7 linked regions of the Homo sapiens genome follow. The protein of the gene in region 5 purifies or fractionates together with the protein of the main gene of each other region. This does not show direct contact. Each region holds a gene or a part of one and is shown on either strand. Other genes may lie near its edges.

What was found.
Region 1: the proteins of SLC44A4 (region 5) and SLMAP purify together in Homo sapiens (affinity purification with mass spectrometry; one large-scale study listed by BioGRID and IntAct). This does not show direct contact.
Region 2: the proteins of SLC44A4 (region 5) and CLPTM1 purify together in Homo sapiens (affinity purification with mass spectrometry; one large-scale study listed by BioGRID and IntAct). This does not show direct contact.
Region 3: the proteins of SLC44A4 (region 5) and TMX4 purify together in Homo sapiens (affinity purification with mass spectrometry; one large-scale study listed by BioGRID and IntAct). This does not show direct contact.
Region 4: the proteins of SLC44A4 (region 5) and ECD purify together in Homo sapiens (affinity purification with mass spectrometry; one large-scale study listed by BioGRID and IntAct). This does not show direct contact.
Region 6: the proteins of SLC44A4 (region 5) and HAT1 purify together in Homo sapiens (affinity purification with mass spectrometry; one large-scale study listed by BioGRID and IntAct). This does not show direct contact.
Region 7: the proteins of SLC44A4 (region 5) and NCAM1 purify together in Homo sapiens (affinity purification with mass spectrometry; one large-scale study listed by BioGRID and IntAct). This does not show direct contact.

The regions. Positions count from the first base shown.
Region 1 is NC_000003.12:57,909,443-57,913,635, reverse strand, and holds part of SLMAP (sarcolemmal membrane-associated protein), read right to left. Parts: intron 1,750-4,193; exon of another isoform or gene 1,715-1,749; intron 1,498-1,714; coding exon of another isoform or gene 1,445-1,497; exon of another isoform or gene 1,256-1,444; coding exon 935-1,255; intron 479-934; coding exon 361-478; coding exon of another isoform or gene 294-360; exon of another isoform or gene 24-293; intron 1-23. UniProt on the Homo sapiens protein: Associates with the striatin-interacting phosphatase and kinase (STRIPAK) core complex, forming the extended (SIKE1:SLMAP)STRIPAK complex.
Region 2 is NC_000019.10:44,982,733-44,986,925, reverse strand, and holds part of CLPTM1 (putative lipid scramblase CLPTM1), read right to left. Parts: intron 1,709-4,193; coding exon 1,623-1,708; intron 472-1,622; coding exon 351-471; intron 1-350. UniProt on the Homo sapiens protein: Involved in GABAergic but not glutamatergic transmission. Binds and traps GABAA receptors in the endoplasmic reticulum (ER).
Region 3 is NC_000020.11:7,995,238-7,999,430, reverse strand, and holds part of TMX4 (thioredoxin-related transmembrane protein 4 precursor), read left to right. Parts: intron 1-3,359; coding exon 3,360-3,405; intron 3,406-4,193.
Region 4 is NC_000010.11:73,150,849-73,155,041, forward strand, and holds part of ECD (protein ecdysoneless homolog), read right to left. Parts: intron 3,601-4,193; coding exon 3,408-3,600; intron 1,574-3,407; coding exon 1,445-1,573; intron 858-1,444; exon of another isoform or gene 1-857. UniProt on the Homo sapiens protein: Regulator of p53/TP53 stability and function. Inhibits MDM2-mediated degradation of p53/TP53 possibly by cooperating in part with TXNIP. May be involved transcriptional regulation. In vitro has intrinsic transactivation activity enhanced by EP300.
Region 5 is NC_000006.12:31,868,638-31,872,830, forward strand, and holds part of SLC44A4 (choline transporter-like protein 4), read right to left. Parts: intron 2,925-4,193; coding exon 2,837-2,924; intron 2,761-2,836; coding exon 2,677-2,760; intron 2,411-2,676; coding exon 2,175-2,410; intron 2,066-2,174; coding exon 1,966-2,065; intron 1,001-1,965; coding exon 908-1,000; intron 621-907; coding exon 518-620; intron 1-517. UniProt on the Homo sapiens protein: Choline transporter that plays a role in the choline-acetylcholine system and is required to the efferent innervation of hair cells in the olivocochlear bundle for the maintenance of physiological function of outer hair cells and the protection of hair cells from acoustic injury.
Region 6 is NC_000002.12:171,928,754-171,932,946, reverse strand, and holds part of HAT1 (histone acetyltransferase type B catalytic subunit), read right to left. Parts: intron 1-4,193. UniProt on the Homo sapiens protein: Histone acetyltransferase that plays a role in different biological processes including cell cycle progression, glucose metabolism, histone production or DNA damage repair. Coordinates histone production and acetylation via H4 promoter binding.
Region 7 is NC_000011.10:113,205,441-113,209,633, reverse strand, and holds part of NCAM1 (neural cell adhesion molecule 1 isoform 2 precursor), read right to left. Parts: intron 4,112-4,193; coding exon 3,968-4,111; intron 3,592-3,967; coding exon 3,454-3,591; intron 2,374-3,453; coding exon 2,256-2,373; intron 1,802-2,255; coding exon 1,632-1,801; intron 1-1,631.

The sequences.
Region 1 (4,193 bases), on a different chromosome or scaffold from region 5:
ACTAAAAGAAGAGATCACTGGTGTGAAAGAAAAGCAGTTGATATTTGAAATTTATTAGTTTACAGGGCAAGTTCAACTATGAATTACAGACTTTTGTTGTTTGTTCAGGGTTTCTTTGGGACATTTAATGAATCTGTATTCCATGAGTACAAGGAAAGGACATGTAGGATAATGGTGGTGGCAGGAAAAAAAAAAGCTGAAGTATTTATTCAGTATGGTTAACCTGCCAAATAGCCAAACAGAGATGGGCTGAACATTTGCTCCTGTAAAATATTTAAGTATTAAAATTAAATTTAATTTAGATGAAAATTTAAGATAAAGAAATATTTTATATCTGAAAAACAGAGAGTTCTTGCATACTTGTGCAATTCTTTTTCTTGCCGTTGCAGTTCTGATGATAGCAAAACATTTTCCCTTTTTAGAGAATGGCATTCGGTTTCCAATGCATTCCATTCCTTTCTCAACTTCTCTAGTTCACCTAAAATAGTCCCAAAACATATTTGTTAATACAGAAATATAACTTCCATAATACTTCAAAGGATAAAGGAAAAGATTTCAGAGGAGAACATACTTTTTGCCCCCTTAAAAGCAAGTAGATTTTACATGGTTAATTATATGATTCCTGTTACTTTGCATGTATACCTCAAGGACTGCTATCAGCTTGTACTTGAACAATAGTATTTTTTTCCACTTCACTTTTATAAGACAAGCAATTTTTAACAATTTTAAAATAAAATATAAAACCGTAAAAAAATATAAATTTAAGTAGAACTTGCAGACCTGAAAATACATTTTTAGCTCCGATTTAAAAACATTGGTTTATACAACTGATAGCTAACAAAGAAAAAAAAAGCCTGCATGTTTCTTTTTTAAACAAGTTAAGAAGTTATCATTGTCAAAAGTTAACAGCTTTATGTAAAATACATTTATTCACCTTGCAACCTTGTTGCTTCTTCTCTCTGCTGGTCCTCACACTGTTGACATCTAAGCTGAAAACTGTTTTGCAGACTTGTGATTTCTTTCTCATATTCAGACGCTGCTTTCCGCCACCGCTCAAGCTCAGCTCTCACCTTCTTAAGCTCTTCTTGTAAAGAAGCAATGTCAGTGTCCCGCTCAGAGGCAACCTTTGCTGCTGCTTGATGAAGGAGCAAAATTTCATCTCGGGCACTAAGCAATTCATCTCTAGTACTTGTGATTTCACTGTCCTTCTCCTCCCGGAGATTCTCAGTATCGATGTGTAACCTCTGCAATTGGGCTGCAAAAGTATATCCATCATTTTCTTGGCCCATTAGAATAAAAGAATAATCCATACAGGATTGTAGCTAATGCATAACCTGGGTTGTCAGAGCTGTTGCTTTTGATTAAAGTGTATAAACAATCCACGTTTGATGCAGAAAGCGTCAAAATACAGATAGCAAAGAGGAAAAAAAAACCAAAGTGATCTTCATCTCCCCAACACACAGAAAATTACTTCTGATATTCCTTCTGGATTTTTTCCTATGCATTTATAAACATGTAAAAACAAACATTAAATAGGGAGTGATCACAATAAATGCAGTGTTCCCTATCCTTCTGTTGATGAAACTCTTTCAACAAAAAAATAGTTATAGTATATATAACTTATTTGCCCAACCCTTTATTTTTGACATTTTAGGCTGTTCAGTGTTTAAACACTATATACAATCCTTTTTTTTTTTTTTTTTTTTTTTTTTAGGGTGAATCCTATGTGTAGAATTGCTTGGTCAAATGGTAAGCAATAAAAGCAATAAACAGTTGACGCCCTTGATTCGTTTTTCTGTTCAAATGTCAATTCTTTAAAGAGGCCTTTTCTGATGACTCATGTGAAAAACAGCTCACTGTCATTCTCTGGCTCTTTACTCTGCTTTATTTTCCTTTGAAGTCCTTATTGGACATCATATTATCTATTAATTTGCTTATTGTTTATCTTTTCTACTGGACTGTACACCTCATGTGTGTAGGGCATTTGTTTTGCTCACAGCTGTCAGGTATTGGGGATACCCCAATATCTAACACAGTAAACAATCAAGAATTATTGGTTGAATTAATGAGTTAATAAAATTAATACTGCCTCATTGAAGGGTTATATAGATTTTTAAAAATACCTGGTTTTGTGCTCATGACCCAAACTGGAAACAATTTGTATAAAATCAAACTTGGCGCAGAACAAGAAAATTAATATTGGTTACCATATTATAAGGAAATTGTAGATTTAAAAAGTTCCAAAGGAAAATAATTAATTACAAGAGGATTTAGGGATGGGAGAAAGGGAGGTTGCTACATAAGTAAACATTAAGATATTAGACTTTCTAAGTTTGTAGGAAGGACTGAGAGGTAACAAGTTTGGAATCTGAAAGGGCACAATGGCCAGAGAAGATGATCATGATTTGTTGATACAGTCGTGAAATACACATGCTGGCACCAGGGGGCACTCAATAATGCCTGGGCAAGACAGGTTTTAAAAAAAAGGTAGCACTATGTCACAGAACCTTTAGGAAAAATTGCCCCTACACAGTCTACGATGAAAATAGAGATCCAAATCAGATTTATGTAAATTAATGGATAATGACATTAAACTACAATAGGAGTTTTAAGAGCTTTCAATTTAAAAACACATATGACATACCCTAGAAATTCTAATCTGACCAAAATAAAATTCTAATTTTAAATAACTCAAATGTTCCACTCAAAAAATAGGACCCCAAAGACTAGTTTTTCTCTGCGATATTTTTGGGCAAGTATCTTGGGCCTCGTACAATGACTCTCCCTTCTCTTCTGAATAGTGATTACTTGTCTATTTAATTTCTTCCCCACCTATCTCTCAAGCTAAAATTTTAAAACAACATTGGCTCCTTCTTTGACAAGAAGGCAAATTAATTTTACTTTAGGAATTTTACAATGGCATGGGAAAGGAAGACCTCTCCTGGGGTATCATATAATTTCCTCATAATATACCAGGAGCTCAAGCTTGAAGTAAACATTCGACAGGCAGGGGTCTTTCTGGAAATTTCTGTAATAACCCTGTAATAGCCCAGACAAAGAAATAGCAAAATGGTGATAAGAAGAACAGCCATTATCAACGAAAATCAGTGCAGAGACTACTATCCTATTCCACGTGATATATAATTTTTCTTGAGGCCAGGTGCAGTGGCTCATGCCTGTAATCTCTGCACTTTGGGAGGCCAAGGTGGGTGGATCACGAGGTCAGGAGTTTGAGACCAGCCTGGCCAATATAGTGAAACCCCATCTCTGCTAAAAATACAAAAATTAGCTGGGCATGGTGGCATGCACCTGTAGTCCCAGCTACTTGGGAGGCTCCAGAATCACTTGAACTCGGGAGACGGAGGTTGTAGTGAGCCAAGATCACCACTGCACTCCAGCCTGGGCAACAGAGCAAGACTATGTCTCAAAAAAACAAGCAAAAAAATATTTTCTTGCAATACAAGTGTGTTCTGAGCATTAGATGGCAATATATCTACACCAGCCATCAATATATACATATACCAGCAAGCTCAAAGTGCTGACGCAGAGTAGCTCAAACAGATTTCCTATCCAAAGGCCCTCTGTAGGAACTCACGACATAACTCAGAAAGTGACAGTCTTACCAACTCCAAATCTTCACCTCTGCTTTTTCCATTCTAAGTGTCTAATACGAGAGTACTGGACAATCTTCCCTTGAATTTTCTTTAAAAAAAAAAAAAAAATAGGCCAGGCGCAGTGGCTCACACCTGTAATCCCAGCACTTTGGGAGGCCAAGATTGGTGGATCACCTGAGGTTGGGAGTTTGAGATCAGCCTGACCAACATGGAGAAACCCCATCTCTACTAAAAATACAAAATTAGCTGGGTGTGGTGGCGCATGCCTGTAATCCCAGCTACTCAGGAGGCTGAGGCAGGAGAATTGCTTGAACCTGGGAGGCGGAGGTTGCAGTAAGGTGAGACCGCGCCATTGTACTCCAGCCTGGGCAACAAGAGCGAAACTCTGTCTCAAAAACAAATAAATAAATAAAGCTCCACCAAGAGCCGTGTTGAAATGTGAGGTTCTAGAGAATCAAAGCCATGAAAAATGGGGACTCTCTGCCTTCTTACTTTCCATTTCATTTTTTTTTTTTTTTCTGAGATGGAGTCTTGCTCTGTCACCCAGGCTGGAGTGCAGTGGTGCAATCCCAGCTCACT
Region 2 (4,193 bases), on a different chromosome or scaffold from region 5:
CCATGTAACCCAGTTTTATAAAATAAGCCAGAAATTGTGGCTTTTAAGTGATACTGCCTCAATTTCAAAAGCTGGCAAGTGATAAGACATTTTTTGAAAACAGTTTGTGGGCTGGATGGCACTTGATTGCGGACCGATGCTGGCGTGTAGAAGTCAGTCCTGGGGTCCCCAGGGGTGGTGGTGTGGGAGAGGGAGAGGACATGGGAAGGGGATAGGACAGGGTGGGAGCTTGGGAGGGTGGAGCCCTGGAAAGCTCTCTCAGGGGGACAGGGCCAGGAGAAGACAAGGAGATGGACCCCGAGCACCCTCTCAAAGGCTCTGCAGGCAGCTGGCAGGGCTGGGGAGCTTACATTGATCCAGGGGAGGGGGCACACTGCCCTTCACCCACGGCGTGTGGTCGTCCACGATGTTGATGGTGATGTTGGGGTGCCAATGGGAGATCACCTCCACAGGCCCATAGTCCTCAGCCCTCTGAGGCAACATGGGGGGAAGGACCTCAGAGGCAGGTGGAAGTGCTCGGGGACTATCACTCTCTGTACACTTCCTCCCCAGGGTTCCCGAGAAAATCTTAATCTTTGCTTTCTTTTTTTTCTGAGATGGGGTCTCACTATGCTGCCCAAGCTGGTCTCGAATTCTGGGCTCAAGCACGATCCTCCCACCTCGGCCTCCCAAAGTGCTGGGATTAGAGGCGTGAGCCACCATGGACAGCTTCTTTTCTTTCTTTCTTTTTTCTCTTTTTTGGAAGAGATGGGGTCTCACTATGCTGCCTGGGCTGATCTTGAACTTCCGGGCTCAAGTGATCCTTCTGCTTCGGCCTCCCAAAATGCTGGGAAAACAGGCATGAGCCATCTCCCCTGACAACCCTGGCAGCAGAATATCAGCCACCACAGCAACTGCTGGCAGAAGGCTCTCCTCCCTAGGCTTAGAGATTCCGCCACCCAGGACCCTTCCGGCCACCGACAGGATCCTCCCACCCCACATGTAGAAAACCGAGGTAGAGGTAGAGGCAGGGCTGGCATCCTAGGCCAGGCTGCGAAGCCCAGCCTCATGACAGCAGGCTCCACACACTCTTGCACGGTGGCCTCAGCTCCATGAGCAGGGACCACCCCCCCAACACAGGACCACCCGCAGAGAGAGGAAGTCTCTTAGTGCCCACTGCAGGTTAACCACAGATTAACTGCCCGGCTCCCCAGCCCACTGGGAGTGACAGCAACTATGAATCCTGCAGTTCCTACTAAAGCCATATTCTCGTGTGTGTGCTTGGAGCCAGGCTGAGCTTGGGCTCTGGGGCCTGGCTGTGTGGGTGAGAGTCCCTGGCCTGCCACTTCCGGCTGAGACTGAGCAAGTGTCCTCATGTGACAATGGGACTGTGATGTAGACCCCTCCCAGGCTGGCAAGAGGCTCAGGTAACCTTGTCTGGGATCCTCCTCACTCCCTGAGAGACAGCTGCCTCCTGACCCCATTTCCCAGAGGAGGAGCCCAGTGCTCAGGGAGGGGAGGTGGCATGACCGAGCCGGCATGGTGGTTCAGTGGTGGTGACAGATGACAGCCCCAGTGGTCTGGGATGAGCTGTGAATGGCCTGGCTTGGTCCCTATAGGCCCTGACAACCCTGCCCATTTACCTTGATCATTTCTGGGTCCGCTTCTGTCTCTCCTGTCAGCAGGTTCTTGGTTTTCTGAAATCGTCTGCGCTTGTATTTGTTGATCACTGTGGTTGGGAGGTGGGAAAGGAGGGGACGTGAGACCTGCTGGCACCTGCAGCCTCCAGAGCCCGGACCCCTGCCCACCAGCAACGGCTCACGGTCTCCTGGCATCCACCTTGCACTCACCTGCTGAGATCAATGTGACCTGGAATGCCAGAACTGCCTCCCCAAATCTCAACGAATCCCAGTTCCTCATGATCATGGGGACGCCACCATCACCAAATGCCCCAGGCAGAAACCCCAGCTCAGTAGGGCACTGTAATCCCAGCACTTTGGGAGGCTGGGGCGGGCAGATCCCCTGAGGTCAGGAGTTAGAGACCAGCCTGGCCAGCATGGTGAAACCCCCCGTCTCTAATAAAAATACAAAAATCAGCCGGATGTGGTGGCGGGTGCCTGTAATCCCAGCTACTCGGAAGGCTGAGGCAGGAGAATCGCTTGAACTAGGGAGGTGGAGGTTACAGGAAGCTGAGATCGCACTGTTGCACTCCAGCCTGGGCAACAAGAGCGAAACTCCGTTTCAAAAAGAAAAAGAAAACAAACAAACAAATAAATAAAAACAAGTGACTGATCATGGCATCCCGCAGCTTTGGAACCCCAGACACTCACCGTAGCCCCGGTGACCTCTCAACCCTCACCACCTTCCACTTCTCAAACATGCCAACCCGGGGCCTTCAGGCGTGCTGCCCCGTGTCCCAGGAACCCATGCCCTGACACAATCTTCGTGGCCTGGCTCCTCCGTGGCATTCAAGTCCCTGGCAGAATGTCCTTCTTCCACAGGGCTTCCCTGGCCACCCCACTGAATGAGCCTATGCAGTCATTCTCCTGCCAGCTTGTTTCCTTCACAACATTTCACCACTATCCAAAACCACTTAGCCAGTGGTTTACCTGCCTGCTGTCTGTCCCTGCAACCAGTCTGCAAACTCTGTGCGGAAATGCGGGTAGGGGCAGGGCCTGTTTGAATACACATGGGGCGCCTGCACAGGCTCGGTGATGACCAGTTGAATACATGACTATAAAGAGGCAGCAGACGGTTCCAAAAAAGGCCTGAAGCCACCAACATGAGAAACCAAGATGAGAAACACTTTGAGGCTGTGAATCCCCAGCCAGGAGTTGGCCTCACTTCCTCTCGCAGAGGCCCAGTTGGCCACAGGCCCCCTGCCATGTTGTCCCAAATGCTGCCGGGGAGGAAGGGGCTTGTGCGTGCCCACGCTCCATCTCCCAACCTCTGCCCTGGCCTGGGGACGTTTCTGTTTTTTTTCTGGAGACAGAGTCTCGCTCTGTCACCCAGGCTGGAGTGCAGTGGCACAATCTCGGCTCACTGCAACCTCCGCCTCCTGGGTTCAAGCAATTCTCCTGCCTCAGCCTCTCAAGTAGCTGGGATTACAGGCGTGTGCCACCAGGCTCTGCTAATTTTTTGTATTTTTAGTAAAGACAGGGTTTCACTGTGTTAGCCAGGATTGTCTCAATCTCCTGATCTCGTGATCTGCCCACCTTGGCCTCCCAAAGTGCTGGGATTACAGGTGTGAGCTGCCGCACCTGGCCCGAAAAGAAGCTAAGTATTTTTCTTTTTTCTTTTCTTTTTTTTTTTTTTTTTTTTTTTTTTTTGAGACAGAGTCTCGCTCTGTCATCCAAGCTGCAGTGCAGTGGTGTGATCTTGGCTCACTGCAACCTCCGACTCCCAGGTTCCAGCTATTCTCCCACCTCAGCCTCCTGGGTAGCTGGGACTACAGGCGTGTACCACCACGCCCGGCTAATTTTGTATTTTTAGTAGAGACAGGGTGTCACCATGTTGCCCAGGCTGGTCTCAATCTCCTGGCCTCGTGATCTGCCCACCTCAGTCTCCCAAAGTGCTGGGATGACAGGCGTGAGCCACTGAGCCCGGGGACTTTTCAGCTCTTCCTTATGCTATGAAGGAAAACTCAGTCTGCCCTCCCTCAAGTCTCTATCCTGTCCCCTGGGGCCAGGGAGAGACAGGGAAAGGGGAAAGAGACCTGGCCAACAGCGGGGGCTCTGGGGGCAATCTTGGCTCTGAATCCTACAAGCTAAGGGATGCTGGTGAGTGATGTCACTTCCCTAAAGAAGGAAGAAAAGCCTCACCACTTCTTGGCCCAGGGCCTACTGCTTATTAGCAGAAACGTCATCCTCATTTTTTTTTTTTTTTTGAGATGGAGTCTCACTCTGTTGCCCAGGCTAGAGAGCAGTGGCATGACTTCAGCTCACTGTAACCTCTGCCTCCTAGGTTCAAGCAATTCTCCTGCCTCAGCCTCCCGAGTAGCCGGGATTACAGGCATCCACCACCATGACCAGCAATTTTTGTATTTTTAGTAGAGACGGAGTTTAACCATGTTGGCCAGGCTGGTCTCAAATTCTAACCTCAAGTGATCCACCTGCCTCGGCCTCTCAAATTGCTGGGACTACAGGCTTGAGCCACCTGGCCAATCCTCATCATTTCTATGATTATTAAATCATTGGGGATCTTCCTCCTGTGTC
Region 3 (4,193 bases), on a different chromosome or scaffold from region 5:
TCATTTACCATTCTTTCTTCCTTTTAAGTTATTGATGAGACAGAGGAATAACTGTTTATTGAATTATAGTTTATGAAGGAATTGCTATTATATATTATGTGGAAAACAAAACCTGTGGAGTCTTTGGCTGCCTCGCAAAATACCACAGGGGATAGCTTTGGCCTTGACGGCAAACTGTATAATACTTGGTGAGGTAGATTAGGCCAAACCATAACAGCTTTTTCCACAGTTGGTTTTAGTTTTGAATGGATTGTCATATATATAGATAATTTTATGTTAGTATATACAAGTGTAAGAAATTTCCCTACTGAAAAAGGAGCAAATCAAGCAATATTTCAGGAGTAAATCATCTAGTGGCATCTATATTAATATTAAGGAAACACATAGCTTACTCTAAAAACAACTCTCACATTTCATTCTACAACCATTTGAGCACTGATTTAGCCAGATACTTTCCTAGGTGCTAGGTATTCAACACTGAACAAGACAGACATTCACCTCAGGTACAGAGAATCATAGTTGGGATGAGGGTGGATAAAAAACACAACAACATATTTTACAAAGATGGGATAGCTCTGGGGTTATGGACCTGCTCTTCTAGATGGAGGGAGTAGGAGACATTTCTCTGAAGGGACGCCTCTAGGTGAGATCTGAATGATAGAAGGAACTAGCTTAGGCAAAGAGCAGAGGGAAGATTATTCCCAGGAATGGGTATGGCATATGCATAAGCCCCAGTTTGGAAAGGAGCTTGGTGTACTTAAGGAGCAGAATGGTGACCAGGGTCAAGCATAGTGAAAGGGAATGTAGGATGAGCTGAGTAAGAGGGGCAGGCTGAAGCCAGGTCATGCAGGGCCTGTGGCCACAGGAAAGAAGTTGGAAGTGATCAGCACACACAAGGAGAAGGTGACCCTTAGGAGAGGAGATTGGAGAGGGCAAGAATGGATGAAGTGAGTTGAGGCTTAGAGTGGTAGCTTGTGTCAGGTGGCAGCAGTGGGGATGTGGGGATGGAGAGGCTGAGTGGATTTTAAATATGTTATGAAGGTAGGCTTGGCCAAGGTGAAGGAGAAGAAGGATTCATTAATAAAAACTTACAAGTTTCTGGTTTGAGTACATGATGGATCTTGGTACTTGTTATTGCCTTGGGCAAGAGAAAATTAAGGATTCTGTATAAATCTTGTTGGGTTTGAGATGCAGACTTTGTAGAACTGTCACAGTGGATGCTGTATTAGTCCATTCTTGCATTGCTATAAAGGAATACTTGAGACTGGGTAATTTATAAAGAAAAGATGTTTAATTGGCTCATGGTTCTACAGGCTGTACAGGAAGGATGATGCTGGCATCTGCTTGGCTTCTGGGGAGGCTTCAGGAAACTTATAATCATGGTGGAAGGCGAAGGGGAAGCACATAACATCACATGGCCAGAGTAGGAGCAAGAGAGAAGGATGGAGGTGCCACACACTGTTAAACAACCAAATCTCCTGAGAGATCACTCATTATCAAGAGAATAGCACCAAGTGGATGGTGCTAAACTATTCATGAGAATCCGCCCCCATGATCCACTCTCTTTCCACCAGACCCCACCTCCAGCATTAGGGATTACAATTTGTTAGGAATAATGCTTACAATTTTAAGAAATTGAACACTTGAACAAAGGATATTTAGCAAAGCAATTTTATTTTTGCGCAGAGAGGTGCCTTTTTGGCCAGTCGCCATGAGAGCACACTTGAACAAAGGAGTACGAGAGCCTTTATTTTTGACGCAAGTCTTGCCCCTGTATCCTTTTTTTATTGGCTGGGGTCAGGTGTATAAACTAATTTTAGTTGGCTAAACATTTGAATTTTTTTAGATAAGGTGGGCACATAGAAGAAAGAGGAAAGGGGAAAGGGTGTCTGTAGTGAGTCAGAAAGTTGTTTTTTTTTTTTTAAATAAGGAAAGGAATGTGAGTTGGTACTGATAATGGCTGGTATTGTGGCATGCCTGCGCATTTAACAAAGGCAGAAAGGAAAAAGGAAAAAAAGAGGGGGTGGTTAACTCTGAATTAAAAGATTGATTAGGCTATTTGAAGGGAAACCTTATCATATCTCACAAATTGAACATACGATTTGGGTGGGGATACAGATTCAAAGCATATCAGATGCATGGAAATGGGTCCCCATGAAGAATTCAGGAACACAAAAAAACCTACAGACAATGTTGAGGTGAGGGGAACACCTAGAAAGAAGGAAAAAGAGAAGAGTACTTGGGGATGAGTCATGGGCCACCCCCAAATTAAGAAACTGTGTTGAGAAGTCAGCCAAAGGAAACTGAAAATGAGTACCAGAGAGGCAACATGAAAACCAAGGTCTGCCATTTTCCAGAAGCCAAATGAGTGTTCAAGAAGAAGGGCGTAGTCTCTTGTATCCCATGTTACTAAGAGGCGAAGGGAGATCAGGTCTGAGACATGGACATTGAATGAAACATGGTGAGGTCATCATGGCCTTGACAATCTGTTCCTGTAGTGGTGAGGGTGGAAGCCAGATTTTAATCGATTAAAGGTACAGTAGAGAAGAAACAGCATGTGTAGAGTAATCTGGAGAAATTTATCTGTGAAGCTGGAGGGTCATGTGAGGTCCAGGGATACTCTTTTTAAAGGGTAAAAGAGAGTAGAGCATGTTCATATGCCAGTGAGACTGTTCTAGGAGAGAGAGAGAAGTTGCTCGTGCAGGAAGGGAGGATGAGAGAAAGAACCAAGTCCTAATAAGACAAAATGGATAGGATCCAAGGCACAAGTGGAGGAATTGGACTGTGATAAGAGAGTTAGACTTTTCCTGTCATAACAAGAGAAGGTGGATGCAGGTGGACACCAGGCTCAGATTTGGTAGTGGGAAGATGAGAGAAAGCACATGGTGGCTTCTGATTTCACAGTGACATATGAGGAGTGCTTGTTAGCTGAGTACATGGGGATGGGAAGATGTGTACGTTTTGAAGAGAAGGAAAAGGAAATGAGCTATTTTCTTAGAGCTTAGAAAGTGCTGGACAGTATTACGTGTCCACTTAGGTTTGGGACTATGAAGCAGAAAGAACTGTCATCTGGTTATGTGATGTTTTTTCCCTGGAGACATTCAGCTGCTCAGTGTTGAGATTTTTGCCGGGTAGGCACAATGAAAGGAGAAAGGGCCAAGGAGTTGGAATAGATTTACAGCAGAGTGATTCAAATGATAGCCACTGAATCTAAGCTCTGTAAGAACAGATATGAATCTGGGAGAGGGGGCAATATTTAGCAAGAAGTGGAGGGAAATAGACCAGTCCTCCTGACCTGATTTTCATTTTTTTTTTATAGTATATATGATCACTGTTTCTTCTCTTTATTTTTTTTTAAGGATGTCTGGAATGGCTGGTCTTTTTAGCATCTCTGGCAAGATATGGGTAAGTAATCTTAAATAAAACGTTTATATTTGCAGAGAGGTTAAGAATAAAAATACAGCTTTTAAGCAATAGGAAAACAAACATTTATAAGTACATTTATAATTTCACTTTTTTTCTTAAGCCATGCAACTACTCTCATGTGGGGTTTCCAGTGGTAATGTCGTCATGTAGAAGGGCATAATCTGAACAGTAACCTGTAACTACTGTGTCGAGGTCTTATTTTCTTAAATCAGTGGTGAAGTCTTTCATCCAAGCAAAACGGCTTATGTGATTTTACTTTATCTTATGTATTTCTTTGTAGGCATATCTCCCTACAAAGGAAAGATTGTCTAAGACTGAAAGTAGTTCTGTATGTCAGGGATTAACAAACTCTAGCCTGTGGATGGGCTACCTGTTTTTGTAAATAAAATTTTACTGGAAGACAGCTACATTTATTCATTACCTATTGTCTATGACTGCTTTCATGCTACAATGGTACAGTTGAATAGTTGTGACAGACACAGAGAATTGTGGTTCACAAGCCTGTAATATTTACAATCTGGCCTTTAAGTAGTAGACCCCTGCTATATGTGATCGTATAATTTCTCTGAGTCATTTCAGTGGGTTAGAACTGTTATTCAGGTTTAATTTTTGAACCATTATATAATGTTGAGTATGTCCCATAACCTTTTATTTCCCTTCTCTGTAGGGGAGGACTAAATCCAACCAGATTGAACAAAATGGCTCTGGAATTAAATATAGCTCAAAATATTTCAAAAAGTCTTAGAAGCGAGTCTCCCTATATATGT
Region 4 (4,193 bases), on a different chromosome or scaffold from region 5:
TGGCGATCATTAAAAAGTCAGAGAACAACAGGTGCTGGAGAGGATGTGGAGAAATAGGAACACTTTTACACTGTTGGTGGGACTGTAAACTAGTTCAACCATTGTGGAAGTCAGTGTGGCGATTCCTCAGGGATCTAGAACTAGAAATACCATTTGACCCAGCCATCCCATTACTGGGTATATGCCCAAAGGATTATAAATCATGCTGCTATAAAGACACATGCACACGTATGTTCACTGTGGCACTATTCACAATAGCAAAGACTTGGAACCAACCCAAATGTCCAACAATGATAGACTGGATTAAGAAAATGTGGCACATATACACCATGGAATACTATGCAGCCATAAAAAATGATGAGTTCATGTCCTTTGTAGGGACATGGATGAAGCTGGAAACCATCACTCTCAGCAAACTATTGCAAGGACAAAAAACCAAACACCGCATGTTCTCACTCATAGGTGGGGAATTGAACAATGAGAACACACGGACACAGGAAGGCGAACATCACACACCGGGGCCTGTTGTGGGGTGGGGGGAGGGGGGAGGGACAGCATTAGGAGATATATCTAATATAAATGACGAGTTAATGGGTGCAGCACACCAACATGGCGCGTGTATACGTATGTAACAAACCTGCACGTTGTGCACATGTACCCTAAAACTTAAAGCATAATAATAAAAAAAAAAAGAAAATCTAGACATTCCTATCAATGTCTAGATTGTAACATTTTTGAAAGCAAACAAAAAAAAAAGAAAAACACTATTTTGTAGCTTTAAAGTGCATTTCTTTTATTATGAGTTAAGATTCAATATTTTTCATATGTTTAAATTAAAGGTCACCTGTATTTCCTTTTCTGTGGACTATGTTCATAGTTCTGAACATTTTAAAATTAATTGGCTAGTATTATCATTTTCATATTGACTTAAAGGAACACTTTATGTATTAGAGAAGTCAGCTCTTTTTCATTTAGATTGCAAATATAACACTTTTTCCAGATTTGCTTTTGACTTTATTTATGGAGTTTTTCTTTCCCGTGCAGAAATGCTTAATTTTTGCATAATCAAATTCATCAGTCTTCCCTTTATAGCTTCTGGTTTCAAGTCATGCATAGAAAGGCCTTTCCTATTCAAATTATAAAAGGTTCTTGGTTTTTTTTCAAATTGTATAGTTTCAATTTTTATGTTCAAATATTTGATCCAATTGGAATTTATTTTGGTATAGGTATTAGGGAATCAACTTCAATTTTTCAGATGACTTCAGACTTGTCCCATCATCACTTACTAAGTAATCCATTTTTTTCATTCTAATTTGAAATGCCACATTTTACTGCATTCTTACATAAACAGGGTGTATTTCTGGACTTTGTATATTGTGCCACTATTCTATTAAGAGTCCATTTACATAAAGAAAGGAAACAACATTTTCTGGTTCAACATTACCAATTTCATGCCCAATTCATGGGCTCGGTACTGGGGATCAGATGGAGGAGGCAGCCTGTATCCACTCCGCCGGTCTGGCACAAACCTTTGTTGCACCAATTGTGCATATAGACATTTAGTGAATGTGACCTGGGCATCAAGACACAAAATACATGAGTCTTTTCCTGAAATTAAGATTGTGAATAACACTTCACAGTTAAATATAATGAGAAGTCCATTTATAAGCTTCATATTCATATGAAATGCAAAGAAGATTCAACCTATTCATTGCCTACTTGTTTTTAGTAACAGCTTTATTGAGATACAACTCACATACCATAAAATTTACCCTACTGCTGGCCAGGCATGGTGGTTCATGCCTGTAATCCCAACACTTTGGGAGGCCAAGGTGGGCAGATCATCTGAGGTCAGGAGTTTGAGACCAGCCTGGCCAACATGGTGAAACCCCATCTCTACTAAAAATACAAAAATAAGCCAGGCATGGTGGCGCACGCCTCTAATCCCAGCTACTCGGGAGGCTGAAGCAGGAGAATTGCTTGAACCCGGGAGGTGGAGGAAGTTGCAGTGAGCTGAGATTGCTCCACTGCACTCCGGCCTGGGCAACAGAGCAAGACACTGTTGCAAAAAAAATTTTACCCTACTGCCTACTTTTTAGTAATCGCTAGTAAAATTCTTATCATTAGTTACATTATACAGCAATTAAATGGCTGGAAGATAAAGATAATTCATTTTTTCTATTTCTGAGACAGGGTCTTGCTCTGTTGCAGAGACTGGAGTGCAGTGAGCAATCATGGCTCACTGAAGCCTCAGGGATAGGGTTTCACCATGCTGGCCAGGCTGGTCTCAAACTCCTGACCTCAGGTGATCTGCCCACCTTGGCCTCCCAAACCTCCTGGGGTCAAGCAATCCTCCTACCTCAGCCTCCGAAGTAGCGGGGATTACAGGCGCCCACCACCACACCTAGCTAATTTTTTTATTTTTTGTAGCGATGGGGTTCACCATGTTGCCCAGTCTGGTCTCAAACACGTGGGTTCAAGTGATCCACCTGCCTTGGCCACCCAAAGTGCTGGGATTACAGGTGTGAGCCACCATGCCCGGCCAAGAATAATTCTTAATTCTCTGGAAGAGATGAAATGTTTTATTGTTAAGAAGGAAATAATTAGGCTGGGTGCGGTGGCTCACACCTGTAATCCCAGCACTTTGGGAGGCTGAGGTGGGTGAATCACTTGAGGTCAGGAGTTCGAGACCAGTCTGGCCAACATGGCGAAACACCATCTAAAAATAAAAAAATCAGCTGGGCGTGTTGGGAGGTGACTGTAATCCCAGCTACTCGGGAGGCAGGAGAATCGCTTGAGCCCAGGAAGCAGAGGTTGCAGTGAGCTGAGATGGCTCCACTACACTCCAGCCTGGGTGAGAGAGTGAGACTCTGTCTCAAAAAAAAAAAAAAAAAAAAAAAAGGAAATAATTATAGAAATAGAAACATATGGTCAAAAATAGCTATAAAACATTGAGTATAAAATGGGGAGGCAGGTCTCTTGAAAATTTCCTTCACTGGGTGCAAGAAAAGAAAAAACGTGTATAGTTTGAGCATCCCAAATGTAAATATCTGAAATCTAAAATGTTCCAAAATCCAAAACTTTTTGAGTCCCAACGATATGCTCAAAGTTTTGAGATTTCAGAATTTTCAGATTTGGGATGCTCAAGTAGTAAGTTTAATGCAAATATTCCAAAATCCAAATAAATCTGAAATCTGAAATACTTCTAGTCCCAAGCATTTCAGATAAGGAATATTCAATCTATATTAACATGCTATGAAGAAACAGAATATTTCCTTTTTTTTCTAGAGAACAATTAAAATAATGTTTCATTCACTGAGCACTGAGAAATGTAAAAAGAAAAAAATAATAATGTTTCAACTCGGTTTCCAGTAAGAGAAACTAAATGACCAAGATAGAAATCTCACCGATGTCATTATTCGTGTTTCAGGCAAGAATGTCTTGAAAACACGACAAGCTCGCAGGTCAATAGGGTCTCGTAGGTAAAATGCCTGGACTGCTGCAGCCACCAATCTGGGGCGCTGCTTTAGCACTGCCACAATGCCAGCTGGAAGGAAGCAGTGTGCTCGATGAAGTGAGGCCTGAATTTTTTCTGGGTACCTGGGACAGGTAACATAATTACTTTCATTTTACAGTATATAAATACCTATAATTCTTATACCATTCACATTCTTTTTGACATCTCTTTGTTCATCAAGAGCAGTACGTAGAGAGTGACAAGAGAGATGAAAAAAGATACTGTATATACACTTAAGAATATACGAGAGAGGGAAAGAAAAAAGTAGGAAGAAATGGAAAATAAAGAAAAGGGATTATTGTAGCTCTATAAAAACAAAACAACTTTGGGAGGCTGAGGCGGGTGGATCACGAGGTCAGGAGATTGAGGCCATCCTGGCTAACACGGTAAAACCCCATCTCTACTAAAAATACAAAAAATTAGCTGGGCGTGGTGGCATACGCCTGTAGTCCCAGCTACTCGGGAGGCTGACATAGGAGAATCGCTTGAACCCGGGAGGCAGAGGTTGCAGTGAGCCGAGATCACGCCACTGCACTCCAGCCTGGGCGACAAGAGCAAAACTCCATCTCAAAAACAAAACAAAACAAAAATACCTATTATACTTTGGAATAAAGATAAAATCAGAGTTTATTCTTCTAAAAGAATGGTACAAAGTATGCTGAAGCTAAAAGAGATT
Region 5 (4,193 bases):
AGCTTAAAATTAGCCTGGCGTGGTGTCATACGCTAGTAGTTCCAGCTGCTCAGGAGGCTGAGGTGGGAAGATTGCTTGAGCCTGGGGGATGGAGGTTGCAGTGAGCTGAGATTGCACTGCTGCACTCCAGCCTGGGCAACAGAGCAAGACCCTGTCTCAAAACAAACAAACAAACAAACAAACAAACAAACAAACAGGAGTAGGCTGAGACTCAGAGGGTGAAGTGGTTGATGGTCCTCAAGTCAGAGCAATGTCCTGGGGAGGGGTGGAGTAAGTCCTGGTATCCAGGGCTGTCTCTCCCAGCCTCAGTTTCCCTCCCCACATGATGGATGGCTCAACAGGAGTACCAGGTATTCTGGGAACTGGTTTCTTCTAGCTCTGCTGGGGGTTGAGTGTGTGACCTTGCACAAGTTTCTTGCCCTCTGTGGCCTCAGTCTTCTCTGCACAATGAGGAATGTGGCCCCTACAGCCCCTCACCCCTACTAGTCCCGCCTCCATGTCCCCTGCTTCCTCTTACCGTGGGGTTGCATGATGTATTTATTGGCACTTTCTCACAGCCGGGGGAGCTGATGTTGGATGCCCAGAGCACATACTGGGGTTGCCCCGATGTAGCCAGGTACCCAGAGGGGAGTCAAGGAAAGCATGATCACACGAGGTCTCCACAGGTCACTCGCTCCTTAGGGACCTGTTCCTAGGTGCTTGTGCAGATCGTTTGCTGCACAGAGAGGGCTGAAATTCAGCCTGTGTGCACCCTTTCAACTCTGTTCAGGCACAGTGCTGGTGTGTCTGCCCAGAGAAAGGGGCACCTCTTCCAGTGACACCAAGGCACTCTACAGGGCAAGTATTGCTTTGTTTTCCATCACCCCCCAGGACTCCAAGAGTGGCTGGCTGCGTGGGCAGAGGATACAGAGCAGTCATGGCCCAGTAGGCAATGCAGATGAGGAGGAGGACAAAGGTGACCAGTGGGTAGAACATGGTAGACATCATCTGTCCCACAGCCCTGCAGGGAGACAAAGCTGTTAACCGGCACCGCCCCAGCTGTCCATCTTCTCAAGGGGCTGACCCCGGCCGGGCGCAGTGGCTCACGCCTGTAATCCCAGCACTTTGGGAGGCTGAGGCGGGCGGATCACGAGGTCAGGAGATCGAGACCATGCTGGCTAACACGGTGAAACCCCATCTCTACTAAAAATACAAAAAATTAGCCGGGCATGGTGGCGGGCGCCTGTAGTGCCAGCTACTCCGGAGGCTGAGGCAGGAGAATGGCGTGAACCCGGGAGGCGGAGTTTGCAGTGAGCTGACATCGCACCACTGCACTCCAGCCTGGTCGACAGAGCGAGACTCCGTCTCAAAAAAAAAAAAAGGGGGGGGCTGACCCCTCTGCCCTCACTGGGGCCTGCCCCACTCCCCCAGGGTGGGACCAACAGGGTTAGTGACATTGTCTTTCATATCTGTGTCCTCAGGGCCTGGTGCAGGGCTAGGCATACTGTAGGTGCTCACTGGATAAACAGAACTGAATAAATCAGGCTCACAGGACCCTTAGAGGAAACTGGGGTCACAGAGAAGCCACCTGGGGCAGCTTCGGGTGGAGTAAGGGAAGATCACCCCCAAGCGTGATCCCTTGGCAGGTGTGTGTGGCAGTTCCTGATCGGGAGCAAGCTGCTGCCCCTCCTGGCCCGGATTCCTGCCGTTCCACTCAGCCACCACCACTCCCACCAACCCCTCTAGAAGGCCTATGTCATATTCCAGGCACTCATTGAATCCTCAAGACAACCCTAGAAGGCAGGAATTATTGTTACCCCCATTTTACAGATGGGGAAGCAAAGCCACAGCAGTGTTCACCACTGTGCTATATTCCTCCCTTCTCCTCTGAGGCTCCCTGCCACCTCTCTAGCACCCCCTAGGTCCCCTAGCACTCCTGGGTCCACGCTGTCCTCAACCCCATCTCCCTCCCAGGCAGGCCCTAACTTGCTGGCCTCCTTCAGGAGGGCGATGGCAATACGAATCCGCTGCCGCAGGAAGATGAGCATCAGCAGCAGGATGGCTTCAAGCACCGCCAACACGATCACTGCAGAGGACGGGGCAGACAGACCTAGGTCAGGGCCAGGGCTGGGGCCGGGCATGGCCCAGGGCGGTCCTTGGGCAGCTGGTGGCTTGGGGGTGGGCAGGACACTCACGGGCGGCCAGCCAGGTCTCCTGCACGCTCTGGTAGGCACTGAGGTTGGTGGTGAAACCCAGCTGGGAGATGGAGGCGCCCTTGTCCCGCAGCACTCGGTACTCCTCCCAGCAGTAGTAGATGCCGTATGCCAGCACGCCCAGCACTCCCAGGATCAGCACCAGCACCAGGGGCCCAGCCACCAGGCGCAGAAGCAAGATAAACAGTAGGCTCAAGACCAGAGCCACCCCCAGGGCACTGTAGGCAGGGTGAGGACAGTGAGGTTCAGCCCTAGCCCCTCAAATCTTTCCCCTTACAGAGGCCCTCCCTGCCTTTCCACACACCACCCAATGTCCCCAGATTAGGCCTCTTTCCCTTATAAATCCTGTTGGTCTTGGAATCCATTCGGAGCTCTGGCTCCTCCTCCTCTGTCCAAAGCCTGTGTTTCAGACATTGGGCGAGGGGGTAGAGGATCAGGGAGGAAGAAGGCAAGGACACAAGAGGAGGGGAATCTGGTGACTCACACAAGAATCCAATACCAGGACTGGGCAAAATCTTCAAAGATCTTAACACTGATGTCTCGGGCATTGAGGCTGTCAATAAGACCGCTGTTGGGGAGACAGAGTCAGATGGGGCTGTGGGTGGAAGGGGTGTGGCCAGGATGTGGGGGAGGGAGGTGCCTACCTGATCCCCTGCTGTATGGTGGTGTCATTGGTGATCCCTGGGAGCGCCGGTGGAGTAACGTTGGTCCATGGAAAGCAGCGCCCCAGAGCTGGAAGGGAGAGCCGGGCTGCTGGGTTGGGGGCCAGGAGCTCTGCCTGGAGGGTCTCTGGCCCCCTCCCAGTCCACAGTGCCCTTAGGGGAGGGAAGGGTGATGGGCCTTGCATCCCTCAGTGGGCTGCTTTTGATTTCACAAATGGGCTTCTGCCCTGTGGAGCCCAGTCTATCCCCTGCCTCCCCTCCCTGTCGTGCCTTGGTTTGGACCCTCCTCTCCGCTGGCCTCAACTCTTAGAACACCCTGTCACCCTTCCATCCACCCTCCACCCGAGTGGAGTGCCAGGGAGACCGTGGCACTGCCTGGACTTCATCACTCCAGGGTTCTGGGTCCCTTTGTGACTCAGACATCTCCAGAGGCTCTGCCCCAGAGACAGCATCCACACTCCCTGGCCAGGCTTCCAGGCTCTCCTGTGCAAATCCAGCCCATGTTCCCTTCTACTCTGTACCTTTGCTCTTACTGTGCCTCTCTCTCAGGGCTCTCTTTCCACCAGAAATCCCATCCATGACTCCCTGTTCAAATCCAGCTCCATCTCACCTCCTCCAGGAAGCCTTCTGACCTTATCCCCACCTCCTTTGGCAACTGTTATGTGCCTACAGAGCCACTTACTGCCATCCTTGCAACAACTTTGCCAGGCAGCCTTGCTTTGTCATTTATTTATCTATTTATTTATTTATTTTCTTATTTTTGAGTCAAGGTCTTGCTCTGTCACCCAGGCTAGAGTGCAGCTGCATGATCATAGCTTACTGCAACATTGAACTTCTGGGCTCAAGCGATCCTCCCCACTTAGCCTCCCAAGCAACTGGGACTATAGATGTGCACCACCACACTTGGCTAATTTTTAAATTTTTTGTACAGATGGGGTTTTGCTGTGTTGCCCAGGCTGGCCTCAAACTCCTGGGCTCAAGCAATCCTCCCACCTCAGCCCCCCAAAGTGTTGGGATTACAGGTGTGAGTCACCTCACCTAGCTTATTTATTTTTTAGAGGCAGGGTTTCTCACTCTATTGCCCAGGCTGGAGTGCAGTGGCACAATCATAGCTCACTGTAACCTCCAACTCCAGGACTCAAGTGATCCTCCCGCCTTAGCCTCCTGAGCAGTTGGGACTACAGGCATGAGCCACTGCACCTCACTGTCATTTACATTCTAAAGATGAGGAAACAAGGTTCAGAGAGGTTGCATAGTTGGGTCAAGACCATAGGGCTGGAAAGTGCTAGAATTTATATTCAGATCTACTTGACTTTGAAGTATTCACTTGAGATACTCC
Region 6 (4,193 bases), on a different chromosome or scaffold from region 5:
TAAAAGACAAAGAGAAAAAGAATTACCAATACCCCCAAGAAGGGATTATAGATTCTAGAGTCACTTATTTTATTTTTTGAGACAGCGTCTGGCTCTGTCACCCAGACTGGAGTGCAGTGAGATGATCGCAGCTCACTGTAACCTCCACCTCTCCGGCTCAAGTGATCCTCCCACCTCAGCCTCCCAAGTAGCTAGGACTATGGGTGCATGCCACCATGCTTGGCTAATTTTTAAATTTTATTTTATTGTTGAGATCTCATTATATTGCCCAGGCTGGCCTTGAACTCTTGGGCTCAAGCGATCCTTCTGCCTTGGCCTCCCAAAGATCTGGGATTACATGTCTGAGCCACTGCACCTCGCTCTACAGTCATTTAAATGGTAACAGGGGAATACTGTAAGCAACTTTCTGCCAAGAAAGTTAGATAAAATAGAGAAATACTTTAAAAGACAAAAATCACCAAAACTGACACAAGAAGAAACAGAAGATCAGAACAGTATTAAATCTATTTATTAGATGTATAGTTAAAAACCTTCCAACAAAGAAAACTCAAGGCACATAAAACTTCACTGGTGAATGCTACTGAACATTTAAAGGAATAATGCAGTCTTATACAAATTCTTCCAGAAGATAGAGAAGAAACAGTTCCCAACTCATTTTATGAGGCCAGGAAACCTTGATACCAAAATCAAGCAAAGACGTATGAAAAAAGAAACCATTACCTGTCATGAACAAAGAGTCTTAACAAAACATTGCCAAGTCAAATCTAGCAAAGCAGAAAAAGGATAATATACTGGCATGCAAGGCTAATTTAACACTTAAAACCTCATCAATGTAATTCACCACATTATCAGAATTAAAGGAGAAAAATCTTATGATTATCTTGATAAAGAAAAAGCATTAGAAGGTAACACTTTCATAATAAAAACTCTCACCAAACTAGGAATAGAAGGAAACTTCCTCAACCTGATAAAGGGCACATATGAAAAACCTACAGCTAACATCATAGTGAATGGTGAAAGGCTCAAAATTTTCCTTCTTCAATTGGGAATAAGGCAAGGATGTCTACTCTATCACTTCCATTTGACATTGTAATAGAGGTTCTGGCCAGTGCAGTAAGGCAAGAAAATGAAACACAAGTGGCTCTCCACATATGCAGGTTCCACATCCACTGATTCAACCAATTACGGATCAACATGAGATTGGCTGAATCCTCAAACACAGAATCTGCAGATACAAAGAGCTGACTGTACTATATGGCTGTTTTTCCCCCCCGAGACACAGTCTTGCTTTGTCGCCCAGGCTGGAGTGCAGTGGCACAATCTCGGCTCACTGCAACCTCCACCTCCTGGGCTCAAGCAATTCTCCTGCCTCAGCCTCCCAAGTAGCTGGGATTACAGGTGTGTGCCATCACGCCCAGCTAATTTTTGTATTTTTAGTAGAGACGGAATTTCACCATGTTGACCAGGCTTGTCTTCTCGAACTCTTGCCTCAGCCTCCCAAAGTGCTGGTATTACAGGCGTGAGCCACCATGCCCGGCTATATGGCTATCTATCTATCAAGACAGGGTCTCACTCTGTCACTCACACTGGAGTGCAGTGGCACAATCACAGCTCACTGCAGCCTAGAACTCTTGGGCTCAGGCAGATCCTCCCACCTCAGCCTCCTGAGTAGCAACTACAGATGCACACCATCATGCCTGGCTAATTCTTGTATTTTTTGTAGAGATGGGGTTCTGCCATGTTGCTCAGGCTGGTCTCAAACTCCTGGGCTCAAGCAATCTGCCTGCCTCAACCTCCCAAAGTGCTAGATTACAGATGTGAGCCACCATGCCCAGCCACACTATGGCATTTTGTATAATGGACCGGATCATCGGCAGATTTTGGTATTCACGGGGGATCGTGGAACCAAATCCCTGAAGATACCAATGGACAACTGTATAAGGCAAAGAAAAACTGTGACTTTCTTCATTAACAGGTAATGTTTGTGTGCAGGAAATCTGAAATAATCTACATCTAAAAAAAAAAATCCTATAGCTGGGTGTGGTGGCTTATGTCTGCAACCCTAGCACTTTGGGAAGCTGAGGCAAGAGGATTGCTTGAGCCCAGGAGTTCAAGACCAGCATGGGCAATATAGTGAGGCCCTGTCCCTAGAAAAAAAAAAAAATTTTGCCAAGCATGGTGGCACGCACCTATAGTCCCAGCTATTCAGGAGGCTGAGGTGGGAGGTTCGCTTGAGCCTGGGAAGTCAAGGCTATAGTGAGCCACAATCACGCCACTCTACTCCAGCCTTGGCAATGGAGTGAGCCACTCTCTCAGAAAAAGCCCAGAATACAAAAAACTACAATAATAAGTGAATTTAGCAAGGTTGCAGAATACAAAACAATTACACAAACTGTGCCATTGTGTGTCCATGCATATGCACATGCACACACATAAAACAAGCAATTGGAAGAGAAAATGTTTAAAGTATATCATTTTTAGGTCAGGCACAGTGGCTCACATCTGTAATAGCACTTTGGGAGGCCTAGGTGGGCAGATCACTCGAACCCAGAAGTTCAAGACCAGTCTGGGTAACAAGGCGAAACCCTGTCTCTACAAAAAATACAAAAATTAGCCAGGCATGGTGGTGTATGCGGAGTCCCAGCTACTCGGGAAGCTGTGGTAAGAGGATCACTTGAGCTCGGAGGCAGAGGTTGCAGTGAGTGGAGATCACGCTACTGCACTCCATCCTCGGTGACAAAGTGAGAACATGTCACACATACAAAAATAAATAAATAAAAAAGTATACCATTTTTAAGAGCATCAAAAATCAAAAGATGTAGATTTACTCAGATAAATTTAACAAAATACATGCAAGACTGAAAACCTGAAACATTTCTAGAATACAGAAATACATCATGTTCATATACTGGAAGGCTCAATGTTATTAAGATAGCAATTCTCCCCACATTCAATTTTAGATTCAATGTAATCTTAAGATTAGTCAGAACTTTTTAAATAGAAATTAACCACCTGATTCCAAAATGTATACAGAAATAAGGTCAAGAATAATCGAAACAATCTTTAAAAAATAAAGATGTGGGACTCACACTACCAGGAATCAATAGAAAGTTACACTAATCCAGACAGTACGATATTGACAGAAAAACAGACAATGAATGAGAAAAGTCCAGATGTAGATCCACACGTGTAAGTTCAATATTTTTTTGTTAAAAACGCACCAAGGCATTCACACAAATTATACTGAAACAAGTGGATATCCACATGGAACAACAAACCTTAATCCCTTTCCTCATATTGGACATGAAAAATAACATGAGATGGATCATGGACATAATTTTAATAAGCTAAAACTAAAAACCTTCCAGAAGAAAACATTAGGAGAGCTTCATGATCTCCTTGGGGTAGACAAAGATATTAGGCATGAACCAGAAAACACTAATAGAAATTTTTAAAATTAATAAACTGGACATGATTAAAACTAAAAACTTCCAGTTATACAAAAAAAGTTGAGAATATGAACAGGCAAACCACAAACTGAGAGAAAAATGTGCACAAAACATGTAATCTGCATAAAGGACTCATCCAGAATATGTAGGTAAATAACACCTACAACTAATAACAAAAAGACAAATAACCTAATTTTAAAATGGGCAAAAGATGTGAATACATGAGTCCAAAAGGAGATAGTCGATAACCACATTAAAAAAACAATCCTTAATAGCATTAGTTATGAGGGAAAAGACAATTAAAACCTATTTAATCTTTACAACCACTATGAAGTACTATTAACAAAGAAATACTACTATAAACCCAGTAGAATGCCTAAAACTTTAAAAACTGACAACATAAAATGTTGGTGAGGATATGGAATAACGAAAATTCTAATACACTGTTGATGTGAGTATAAAAGTACTTTGGAAGTCAGTCTGGCCAAGTATCCCATAAAGTTAAACATACAAATACCCTATTGACCCAGCAAATCCACAGCTAGGAATTTATCCAAAATAAAATCATATGTCCACAAAAAAACTCATACAATAACAGCCAAAAACTAGAAACAACTCAAATATCTATTAACTGGCGAATAATGATGTATCCAACAACAGAACAGTATTCAGCAATAAAAAGGAATGAACTGCCGGGCACGGTGGCTCACGCCTGTAATCCCAGCACTTTGGGAGGCCAAGGCA
Region 7 (4,193 bases), on a different chromosome or scaffold from region 5:
TATGTTTATCCATTTATCTCCCTCTTTGTGCTTCCCAGGGTCAAGGGATCATATCCTATTCATCTCTGTAGCCCCTCTGTCCAGCAACAATGGTGATCCATACGTATTTATTAAATGAAGGGATTAATTAACAAATGCATCTATCTTTTTCTACAATATGGAAAAACTTACTAAAACCATAGTGATTGGGGAAGATCAGTCTGAATTCAAGAAAAGACTTTCAAGAATATTTTTCATGAAGTTTAGCTTTCTCTCTCAAATACGTACGGTTAACTTGAACCTAACTGATAGCCTGTTTCTAAACCCAGCTGTTTACTACTGAATAACTAGCAGGACATTTGCATATAAAGTCTTGATTTTCAAAGGTCTGTGTTTATGAACAGTTCTCCTTATCAGGCTGGATAAGCAGGTCCCAACCCTGATTCCCAGGTGCACATTTTAATGACCTGGGGGCTCCATGCACCAGAGCTGCGCCTCAGACTGGCACTTCCCCAGTGCTGTCTACAGTAGACCAGTTTATCTGTGTTTTCTAAACAGACACGCGGAGAGACTTGAGGGCCATTAGGTTAAACGTTTCTCTGCAACCAATTCTTTTTTCAAGATCAGGTCAAAATGCTTTTCAGTTCTGAAATGAATGGAAGTTTCCTGAGTTTATGAAGATGAAGTGAGCAGGGATGTGGGGGCTCTTCCATGACACTGTTTTGCACAGGTCAGGGAAGGAGGCAAACAAGGCAAAGCAGCCAGCCCATCGACCACTAAAGTTACCAAGGGCCTATGCCAAGTCTGGCACTGTTTGGAGTCACAGGGATAACGCCGTGTATGACAGCCAGGGTTATGCTATCTTGAAGTTTACACACTAGTAGAGGTAGGAGACAGACAATCCCCAAAACAAATATGCAAATGACATCTGTTCAGGTACTGTTAAGTACAGCAAAGAAGATACAGTAAGAGTCACGAGAGAGAGATGAGTGGAGGTGGGTGGGGGTGGTCGCAGTGCAGAGGGAGTTGAATTAGCCAGGGCAGTGAAGGAAGGCGCCGCTGAGAAGGTGAGTTTGAGTTAAGATCTGAATGGTGGATCAGAAGAAGGCAGCTCAGAGTGGATCAGAGGGAAAGATATTCCAAGCAGAAGAGAAACCTAGGGCAGTGATCCTGAGATGAAGAACAAGCTTGGTATGTCTGAGGGACATGAAGAAGGCCTGTGTGGTTGGAGAACTTTGCATGTGCAGCAAAGCGAAAGAAAGATGAGGCTGGAGAAGAAGGCAGGAGCTAGTTCATCTCTGGTCTTGTAGGCCATTGCAGGGAGTCTGAATTTTATTCTGGTTGCCATAGGGAGCCACTGGAGGCTTTCAAACAGATGAGTGGTACTTAGGTCATTCTGACTACTGTGAGCAGAAGTGAATGAAGTGGACCAATAGGGAGAGTCGGGGAGGCCAGCTATGAGACCGTCCCACTGCTCAGGTGAGGATGATGGTGGCTTGGACTAGGGCTTGGACTAGGTGGTGGAACTGGCAAGAAATGGTTGCATTGGGTTATGTTCTGAGGGACAGTGGCCAGGGTCTTACTGATGGACTGAATGTGCAGAGGAAGGGGAATTGTGGCAGAGCAGTGACCTGGGCCCCCACTGCCCCTACCAAAGACTTTGAGGTGGATGGTCGCATCCTGCTCGCCAGCCTTGTTCTCAGCAATGCAGATGTACTCAGCCTCGTCGTTCTTATCCACCTTTTTGATGGTCAGCTGGGAACTATCGTCGCTGAAGATGTACTTCTCATCGTCTTCCTCTTGCTCTATCTGTTCCCCATCCCTAGAGCATGTAGAAATGCAAAGTAGCATGATTTCGACCACAGAAATAAGACGTTTATTTTTAATTAGGTTCCATAGAATGCAGACTGAGTCAATGGGAAAGACTCCTCAGTCTTCACAAAAAGTTAAGGCACCAAGTTGAACGTCCACATACACCTCTTATTCCTCTATTCCATCCTCTGACTATCCAAGGGCTGCAACTGTACCCACAAATGTTTCAAAGTGGGCTCCCAAGACCACACCCTCTGGCTCTGACTCTGCCCCCACAAGGCTGAAATTGAAGGAATAATCAATGCACAAGCAAGAGAATCTTATAGAAAAGAGTCCATTCTTCTCCTGGGGTTAATATTCCTAAGAAGCCCACATCCATTCCACGCAGACACTAACATGGAGCAGACTTTGTGATGCCCCATTCTCCTCTAGTCCATGATAAAAGGTATGAGCCAGTTTCTTACTTTGTCCAGCTCATGGTGGGCTCTGGGAAGCCTTCGGCATCGCACACCAGGGTGACGGACTGGCCGAGGTTGGCGGTGGCATTCACAATATTCTGCCTGGCCTGGATGGTAGGTGGCACTGAAGGAAAAAAGGGTGTCATGGGGTGGTTGTGAAAATTTGGAAGAACCCAATGGCCTGGAGAAGAGACACCACTCCAGGTCAGGAGTTCTCAGCCTGTGGGACAAACGTCGTGTGCAGCTACAGAGTTAGTGTCAGGAATTGAAATTCATGTATGTACTAAATAACTTCTGCAAACTGAATAGACAGTTCTACAAACATGCATTTTTGTTTTTCATTAATTGAGAAGCTATAGTAATACATTTTATGCATGTTAAGATGGTATTCAATTTATAGTCACTATTCTTCATTATGTATTTTCTCAGTCAATGCATACTAAACTTAATAACTACCAGGTTCAGTGAAACTTGATGTTAAAAAGGAGCTCTTTGTACTGGAAAAAGTTGGACATTACTGCTCCCAGTGGTTAAATGGTTAACACCAATTCGAATGCATCAGCTATAACAAAGAGTGCCATTTCTCTGGGACTGTGATAAACAACCTTGTACAAAACTGTTTTTTACCAAAGGAATGAGATGGGGAGAGTTTGGCAAAAAAAATATGTGTCAATAGTCAAAACAATTCAACCCTGATTTACTTATTTTCTTAGTACTGACATTATAATTTCCTGTAAACATCTTGTAAATGTCAGATCAATTCCATGGGTGTGTTTATTTGACACTGCAAGTTAAGATTAACAAGCCTATGGACCATGATTCTGACTATTCTGAGGCCTGAGTTGACTTAATACTTTCTTTGAACATTTAAGCAGCGGAATAACTTCACAATTATGGTAACATCAAGGACAATGAGGATTAATAGGTAAGCAGGGGGAAAGTTTTTAGTGCTGCAGAACGGTGAAGGACATTCAGTTGCTGCACTAAAATCCCTCGTAGTTGAAGGAAGATCCAACAGGCAAGTATATTAAAAAAAAAAAAAAAAAGAAATCTAGATGTTACGGTGGGGAGGGGATTTAGCTCAGACGGATGATTGAGTCAGGACAGGATTTAATTTACAGACCCAAGAGGAAGTTAAAGAGAATGATTTTGGAGAACCAAGGTTGTAGCAATGCAGAGATCAGGAAGAACGGACTCTCCTCACCATTCACAATGACCTGAATGTCCTTGAAGTTGATCTCCCCCCGTGCCAGGATTCTGCCCTCACAGCGATAAGTGCCCTCATCTGTTTTCTTGATGCCCCGGATCTGCAGGTAGTTGTTGGACAGGACTATGAATCGGACTAGAAGAGATAAGAGGCAGGTTCATCCAAGAATCAGTCAGAGAGCATCTGCAGGCAGGTGGCTGAGTCTCTTTCCTTTTTCCTAACTTCAGTATCATAGGGTGGGGTTTTAAGCCCAAATAAGAAAATGCGTCCCTGGCTTTGAAATACAGCCAAGAGTAAATGTCTATTAGAAATTTGTCTTTCGTACTGGAGAGAAAATCAGGTACCTAAGTATACCAACTTCAGATATGCATCTATTCAGGACCCAGAAACCACATGAGGGTTCGGGCACACATGAATTGGAGTTTGGACTGGAATGCCTCAGTACAGGTGAAAAAGCTAGGGAACTTGGTGGCCTGGGGAAAAGGCAGATGCCAGGAAATTCAGGTCTCACCATCTTTTTTCAGGATGACATCTCGGCCTTTGTGTTTCCAGATGATGGTTGGTGGGAGGGAGCTGACCACATCACACACAATCACGGCATCTTCCCCCTCCCGGAACTCCTGTGGGGTTGGCGCATTCTTGAACATGAGCTTCTCTGGAAGATGAACAGAAGAGTGAGGGAAAACAGCTGCTTCTCTCACAAAGAACCCCTTTCACTAGAGCCATGGTACCTGGAC